2 linked regions of the Homo sapiens genome follow. The protein of the gene in region 1 interacts with the protein of each later gene in a biochemical or structural test. Each region holds a gene or a part of one and is shown on either strand. Other genes may lie near its edges.

Region 1 (4,016 bases):
TCTCTCTCCCGCCCCCGATATACACTGATGGCCATGACCATGTAAACAACAGCTGGGTGATCCCATGACCCCATGTGGCCCGGCACTGTGTTCTCTGCCTTCTGCGCATGAACTCACTCCTCCCAACAGAGTGTCAGGGAGGGTGCTCTTGTTACCCCATGTTCCAGAGGAAGAAACTGAGGCCCAAAGAGGGACAGGCACTTGAGCTTGGTCACAGTCAGAAGGGTGGAGGGGAGTCAGCCGTCAGCCCCTCCACCAAGCTGCCACTCAGTGACCAGGCCTGTCTGCCTCTCACCCTCCAGGGTTGACAACTCCCTGTGGGTTCAGCCCGTGGCCCCAGCACACAGGCAGCGGCTCCCAACTGCCTGTTTCTCTCTGAGTCCCCCACCCCCACCACCGCGTTGTCTCTGTGCCTCTCTCTGGGGCTTTGGAGACGGACATGTCTCCTGTTGCTCCGCCCCTCCATCACTCTGCCCATCTCTGTCCCCAGCGGCCTCGGGCTATGGGACCCAGAACATTCGACTGAGCCGGGATGCCGTGAAGGACTTCGACTGCTGTTGTCTCTCCCTGCAGCCTTGCCACGATCCTGTTGTCACGTGAGCTGGGAACAGGGATGGGTAGGTCTGGGTGGGGAGAGCAAGGGAACCGCCAGGAGGAGGCTGTGTGCGTGGGTCTGGCCACCTGCACAGCCAGGGAACCCTGGATGAGCAGTTTATCCTCAGAGCCTCTGTATTCTCACATGGGACATGGGCATGATCCTAGCATCTGTTTCATAGTGTGGAACATATGGAAAGGAACATACTTCTAATGGGGTGTAGGGCTCTCAGAGCATTGCCGAGGCCATCGGAGCAGCTCACCTTTGGACACTTCCCATGACCTACCTCTGATGGTAGGGCAAAGGCTTAACAGGTGCTGAGTCCAGGCACTAAATACGTGCTCAATTAGTGGTATATTTTGTAGAAGACAGTAATTAATGATCAGGGCCCCCAAGGCCACCTTCAGGTTTCTTTTTTTTTTTTGAGACAGAGTCTTCACTTTGTTGCCCAGGCTGGAGTGCAATGGGGACATCTTGGCTCACTGATATCCCAGGCTCAGGTGATCCTCCTGCCTCAGCCCCCACGAGTAGCTGGAACCACGGGTGTGCACTACCACACCTGGCGTTTTTGTTTGTTTTTTGTAGAGAGGGGAGCTCACTTTGTTGCCCAGGCTGGTCTCGAACTCGTGGCTGCAACAATATGTGGCACACATTGTTGCTGAGAGAATGAAGCACTTTCCCTGCAGCTCTATTGGGAGAGGACAGCTGGAAGCTCAAATCTAGTCTCTACTAGATTCTGCCCCATGTGCCTTTTTCCTTTGCTGATTTTAATCTGCATCCTTTCACTGCAGTAAACTATCACCATGAGTATAACAGCTTTGCTGAGTTCTGTGAATTCTAGCAAATAATTGAACTTGGGACTGATCATGATGACTTCTGCCTATAATCCCAGCACTTCGGGAGGCCGAGGCGGGAGGATCACTTTCTTTCTTTCTCATTGCACCCTGTCTTTGCAGCCCAGATGGCTACCTGTATGAGCGTGAGGCCATCCTGGAGTACATTCTGCACCAGAAGAAGGAGATTGCCCGGCAGATGAAGGTGATGGGGATGGGGAGGAGGCGGCACACGGAGGCAGGAGCTTTTGAGTCTGAGCTCACAGGCAGAGCCACTCAGAGCCCTCTGATCTCAGTTCCCTCTGCCTGGTACACCATTCCCCTCCCCTGCTTCCGGCCAAATCCTTCTCACCGATTTCAGCCCAGATGCTGCCTCCTCTGAGCTCCTGCCAGTCCCCAGGATCTGCCCCAGTCACCTCTTCTCTTAGCACTTAGCATAGTTGTAGCTGTACATGTGGCTGTCTGACACATGCCCACTTTCCCTTATGGACTTCGAGTTTTCCCACCCTGTAGCTTAGGTCCTTAGTAAAGATATGCTAAATGGGTCGGGGGTGGTGGCTCACACCTGTAATCCCAGGACTTTGGGAGGCCGAGGCAGGCGGATCACTTGAGGTCAACAGTTAGAGGCCAGCCTGGCCAACATGGTGAAACCCTGTCTGTACTAAAAATAAAAAAATAAAAAAAAAAATTGAGCCGGGCATGGCGGGCGCCTGTAATCCCAGCTACTCAGGAAGCTGAGGCAGGAGAATCGCTTGAACCCATGAGGTAGAGGTCGCAGTGAGCTGAGATGGCACCGCTGCACTTCAGCCTGGGTAACCGAGCGAGATTCTGTTTCAAAAAAAAAAAAAAAAAAAAAGATGTGCTACGTGAATTGACATCACCTCATTTTTTCTGGGCCTCAGTTTCATCGTCTGTAAAACGGGCTGACGGCCAAATCAGAGGACACAGCAGGGCACCTGGGAGGTACACGCAGATGAGCATTCTCAAGGCGTGTTACTGGGAACCCGGCCTGGCCTTCCATGGACAAAGCCATTTGATGGGTAGGAGGGGCCCTGTTTGAGGCACAGTGGGTCTGTCCCCCTCTTCCCCTGCCTGGTTGCTGGCGCTCAGGAAACACTACAGGTCACATGCTTATTGGGCTTTTTGTCCCAAGCAGGTGGCTCCCCCTGTGCCCATGTCCTCCACACAGCCTGGTGGTCATGTCGGAGGCCCTCATGAGCATCCATCACTGTCACTGTTACCTCCTCACTCAGCTGGGTGGCCCAGGGTGGTCTGGAACTGCAGCACCGCCCAGGCAACTGCTGTGCGCCAGGCAGGGCTGAGCTCAGGTCATGGCTTCACTTCTCCCGTCCTCACTCACTGTCCGTCCATAGACATGGGCTCCTCAGCATTCCCTTAGATCTGAAGTCTACATCCCCCGTCCCAAACACGGGCTGGGGCATGCACTGTATAGAAAACTTAATTGGCCAGCAGGTGACATTAATTAAATGCTTAGCTGAGTGCCAGGTGAGGCTCTCCATGCTGTAAACACTCACCTTATGTAACCCTTCAGTGAGCCGCTGAGGTGGGTAACCACTGTTAGGCTGTTTTACAGATGAAGAAACTGAGGCCAGGAGAGGTCATAGTGCTCACTTAGGCCACAGAGTGACAGAGATGGGCTTTGAGCCCTGGCAGTCTGGCTATACAACGCAGTAAGGTTCACACCCACCCAGGGTGGCAGTTACCACCCTCTGCCACATAGTGCCTCCATCAGAGGGTCCCCTTTGTGGGCCTCAGTTTACCTACCTGTGAAATGGGAGGAAGATACCCCCAGCCCCACGGGCAGATGCTCAGCCCACTTTCCCCGACGCAGGCCTACGAGAAGCAGCGGGGCACCCGGCGCGAGGAGCAGAAGGAGCTTCAGCGGGCGGCCTCGCAGGACCATGTGCGGGGCTTCCTGGAGAAGGAGTCGGCTATCGTGAGCCGGCCCCTCAACCCTTTCACAGCCAAGGCCCTCTCGGGCACCAGCCCAGGTGACTCAGGTTGGGCTTCTTGTGGGTTGGGGGGCGGGGCGCCGCGGGCTGGGCGGGCCCAGGGGGCGGCATCTGAGTCCCTTCCTTCCCCCACAGATGATGTCCAACCTGGGCCCAGTGTGGGTCCTCCAAGTAAGGACAAGGACAAAGTGCTGCCCAGCTTCTGGATCCCGTCGCTGACGCCCGAAGCCAAGGCCACCAAGCTGGAGAAGCCGGTGAGCCCCCACAGCGCCCCGGCACGCACGGTGCCAGGGCGCCAGGGTTCCCCACCGTCCTCCTCACGCACAGGGACCACGCGCTCTCCACCTGCGCCAGCCCTGCCTACTGAGCCCGCCTCTCTCTGCCCCTTGCAGTCCCGCACGGTGACCTGCCCCATGTCAGGGAAGCCCCTGCGCATGTCGGACCTGACGCCCGTGCACTTCACACCGCTAGACAGCTCCGTGGACCGCGTGGGGCTCATCACCCGCAGCGAGCGCTACGTGTGTGCCGTGACCCGCGACAGCCTGAGCAACGCCACCCCCTGCGCTGTGCTGCGGCCCTCGTGAGTCACCTGGGAGGGGAGGGAAGGGACCACTC
Region 2 (2,543 bases), on another chromosome or scaffold:
AGTCAGGAGAGGGCGTTTTCTTTGTGCTGCCAATTCTGATCATTTAAATTTTGGTTTGTTTGGGTTGTGATTTTTTTGTTTTTGAAGTCTGCGTTATTTGTAACAATTGTACTTATATTTTTCTATATCCTCTAACGCCAGAGTTTTCTTTTTCTCCCCCCTCCCCCCCACTTCTACATTCACAGTTGAACCATATTATTAGGAAAGGCGCCTTGATGAAAAGATCAGGATAGGAGCTCTGACCATTCGTCAGTGTTTTCCCTAGAGTAAAAAAAACAAAAAACAAAACCAAAAAAAAAAAACAAAACAAAACCTAAAGAGCGTCTTTCCTCTGTGTGTGTGTTTTTTTTTTTTTTTTTTTTTTTTTTTTTACATCTCTTGTGCTGCATCAGTAAACAAAACTTCGGTTAGTTTTATGAAATGCAACATCTAACCCCTTGTTTTCTGGGAAAAAGAAACTGCAATGACTTGAAGTTGAGAATGTGGATACCGCCTCACTCACACACACTCATTCTCAGACTGTAAAAAATCCCTGACCCTCCTTCTAGCTGGCAAGCATACAGTACCATGTGGCAAAGGTACAGCGAAGGTGGGCTTGAGACCCAGGCTCCATCTTTCTCCTCAGTAGCAAAGGCCAGGCTGCCTTTTACAACAAAGCACCACAGCTGAACCCAGTCCCTCCTCCTCCCCCAAACCAGGCATTCCACTCGGCACTGGCCAAAAGACAGAAAAGCTACTTCTAGCCTCTCCTGGGAAGAGATAACTTTCTTTCTTTTTTTTTAAATAAGTAACTCCATTGTTTTTCTCTTTTCCAAGATGGCCGATGTTATGGTTTTCTACGAAGTCAGTGCTTACTTAGCTCACTAACAGCGCTGCTGTTGGCGGCTGCGGCTGCTGCTGTGGCAGGATTTTCAATGTGGTGTGTTTTCAAGCCTCACTCACTCATCCTCTCATTCCCAAACATTCAGCATCCGTGCACACTCCTCACTTCCAGGTTTTTCAAAAGATGGGAGATTTCCAGTGGGGGTCCTCAGGTTATCATCCCAATGGTAACAGATCTGAAAACAGATGGAAAAAAAGGTCAATCTTTGAGATCACATATACCCAACAGAGCCAATAATGCTGACTCCTACAATTACATGCTCCTAGGCCTGAATGGAATTTGTCAACATTTCAAGGATTGACACTCTTTCTTCTTGTCCTATGTGCCATTGACCTGCTCTTATTAACACCTACATCAGAGGGTGCGAGGGAAACTCAAAGAGCCAATTTTACTGAGATCTGTGGAGTAAGATAACTAATTAAGAGTGAAAGAAATTAAAACTGTATTTCAGTCTGGGTGCAGTGGCTCAAGCCTTTAATCTCAGCACTTTGGGAGGCCAAGGAGGGAGAACTTCTTGAGGTCAGGAGTTCAAACCCAGCCTGGGCAACAGGAGATCTTGTCTCTAAAAATAAAAAAAAATTAGCCAGTCATGGAGGTGCTTGCCTGCAGTCCCAACCACCTGGGAGGCTGAGGCAGGAGGGCCACTTAAGCCCAGGAGCTGGAGGCTTCTATGAGGTGTGATTGTACCACTGCACTCCAGCCTGGGTGACAGAGGAGACTCTGTCTCCAAACAAACAAGATTGCATTTCAAAGTAGGAGCCAAGGCCTGGTGTGGTGGTGCACACCTGGGAGACCGACAAAGGTGGATCACCTGAGGTCAGGACCAGTCTGGCCAACATGGTGAAAACCCATCTCTACTAAAAATACAAAAAAAAAAAAAAAAAAAAAAAAACCTATAATTCCAGCAATTTAGGAGGCTGAGGTGGGTGGATCACCTAAAATCAGGAGTTCAAGACCAGCCTGGCAAACATGGTGAAACCCCATCTTTACTAAAAATACAAAAACTGGGCCAGGCATGGTAGCTTACGCCTGTAATCCCAGTACTTTGGGAGGCCGAGGTGGGTGGATCACGAGGTCAGGAGGTCAAGACCAGCCTGGCCAAGATGGTGAAATCCTGTTTCTACTAAAAATACAAAAAAATTAGCCAGGTGTGGTGGTGGTAGGGCACCTGTAATCCTAGCTACTCAGGAGGCTGAGGCAGAGAACTGCTTGAACCCGGGAGGCAGAGGTTGCAATAAGCTGAGATCGCACCACTGCACTCCAGCCTGGGCGACAGAGCGAGACTGTCTCCAAAAGAAAAAAAAAAAAAAAAAGAAGAAGAAAAGAAAAGAAAAAAAGAAAATTAGTCGGGTGTGGTGGCATGTGACTGTAATCCCAGCTACTCGGGAGGCTGAGACAGGAGAATTGCTCAAACCCAGGAGGCAGCAGTTGCAGTGAACCGAGATTGTGCCATTGCACTCCAGCCTGGGCGACAGTGAGACTCTGTCTCAAAAAGAAAACACACACACACACACACACACACAAAAAAACATTTGACTTTGGAAATCTTCTCTAGAGCTAGGCAACGTCTAAAAGCACTGCTGTAAAGAAAGAATAGGGCATGAGGAAAGGAATAGAAAACAGAAGAGAATTAGGGGGAAATGGCATTACTGATGATTTT

What was found.
Region 2: the proteins of NOSIP (region 1) and KPNB1 form a complex in vitro, tested with the Homo sapiens proteins (one study listed by BioGRID).

The regions. Positions count from the first base shown.
Region 1 is NC_000019.10:49,556,514-49,560,529, reverse strand, and holds part of NOSIP (nitric oxide synthase-interacting protein), read left to right. Parts: intron 1-490; coding exon 491-596; intron 597-625; exon of another isoform or gene 626-1,095; intron 1,096-1,180; exon of another isoform or gene 1,181-1,551; coding exon 1,552-1,633; intron 1,634-3,280; coding exon 3,281-3,440; coding exon of another isoform or gene 3,441-3,449; intron 3,450-3,536; coding exon 3,537-3,655; intron 3,656-3,793; coding exon 3,794-3,981; intron 3,982-4,016. UniProt on the Homo sapiens protein: E3 ubiquitin-protein ligase that is essential for proper development of the forebrain, the eye, and the face. Catalyzes monoubiquitination of serine/threonine-protein phosphatase 2A (PP2A) catalytic subunit PPP2CA/PPP2CB.
Region 2 is NC_000017.11:47,680,919-47,683,461, reverse strand, and holds part of KPNB1 (importin subunit beta-1), read right to left. Parts: intron 1,059-2,543; coding exon 1,058-1,058; 3' UTR 1-1,057.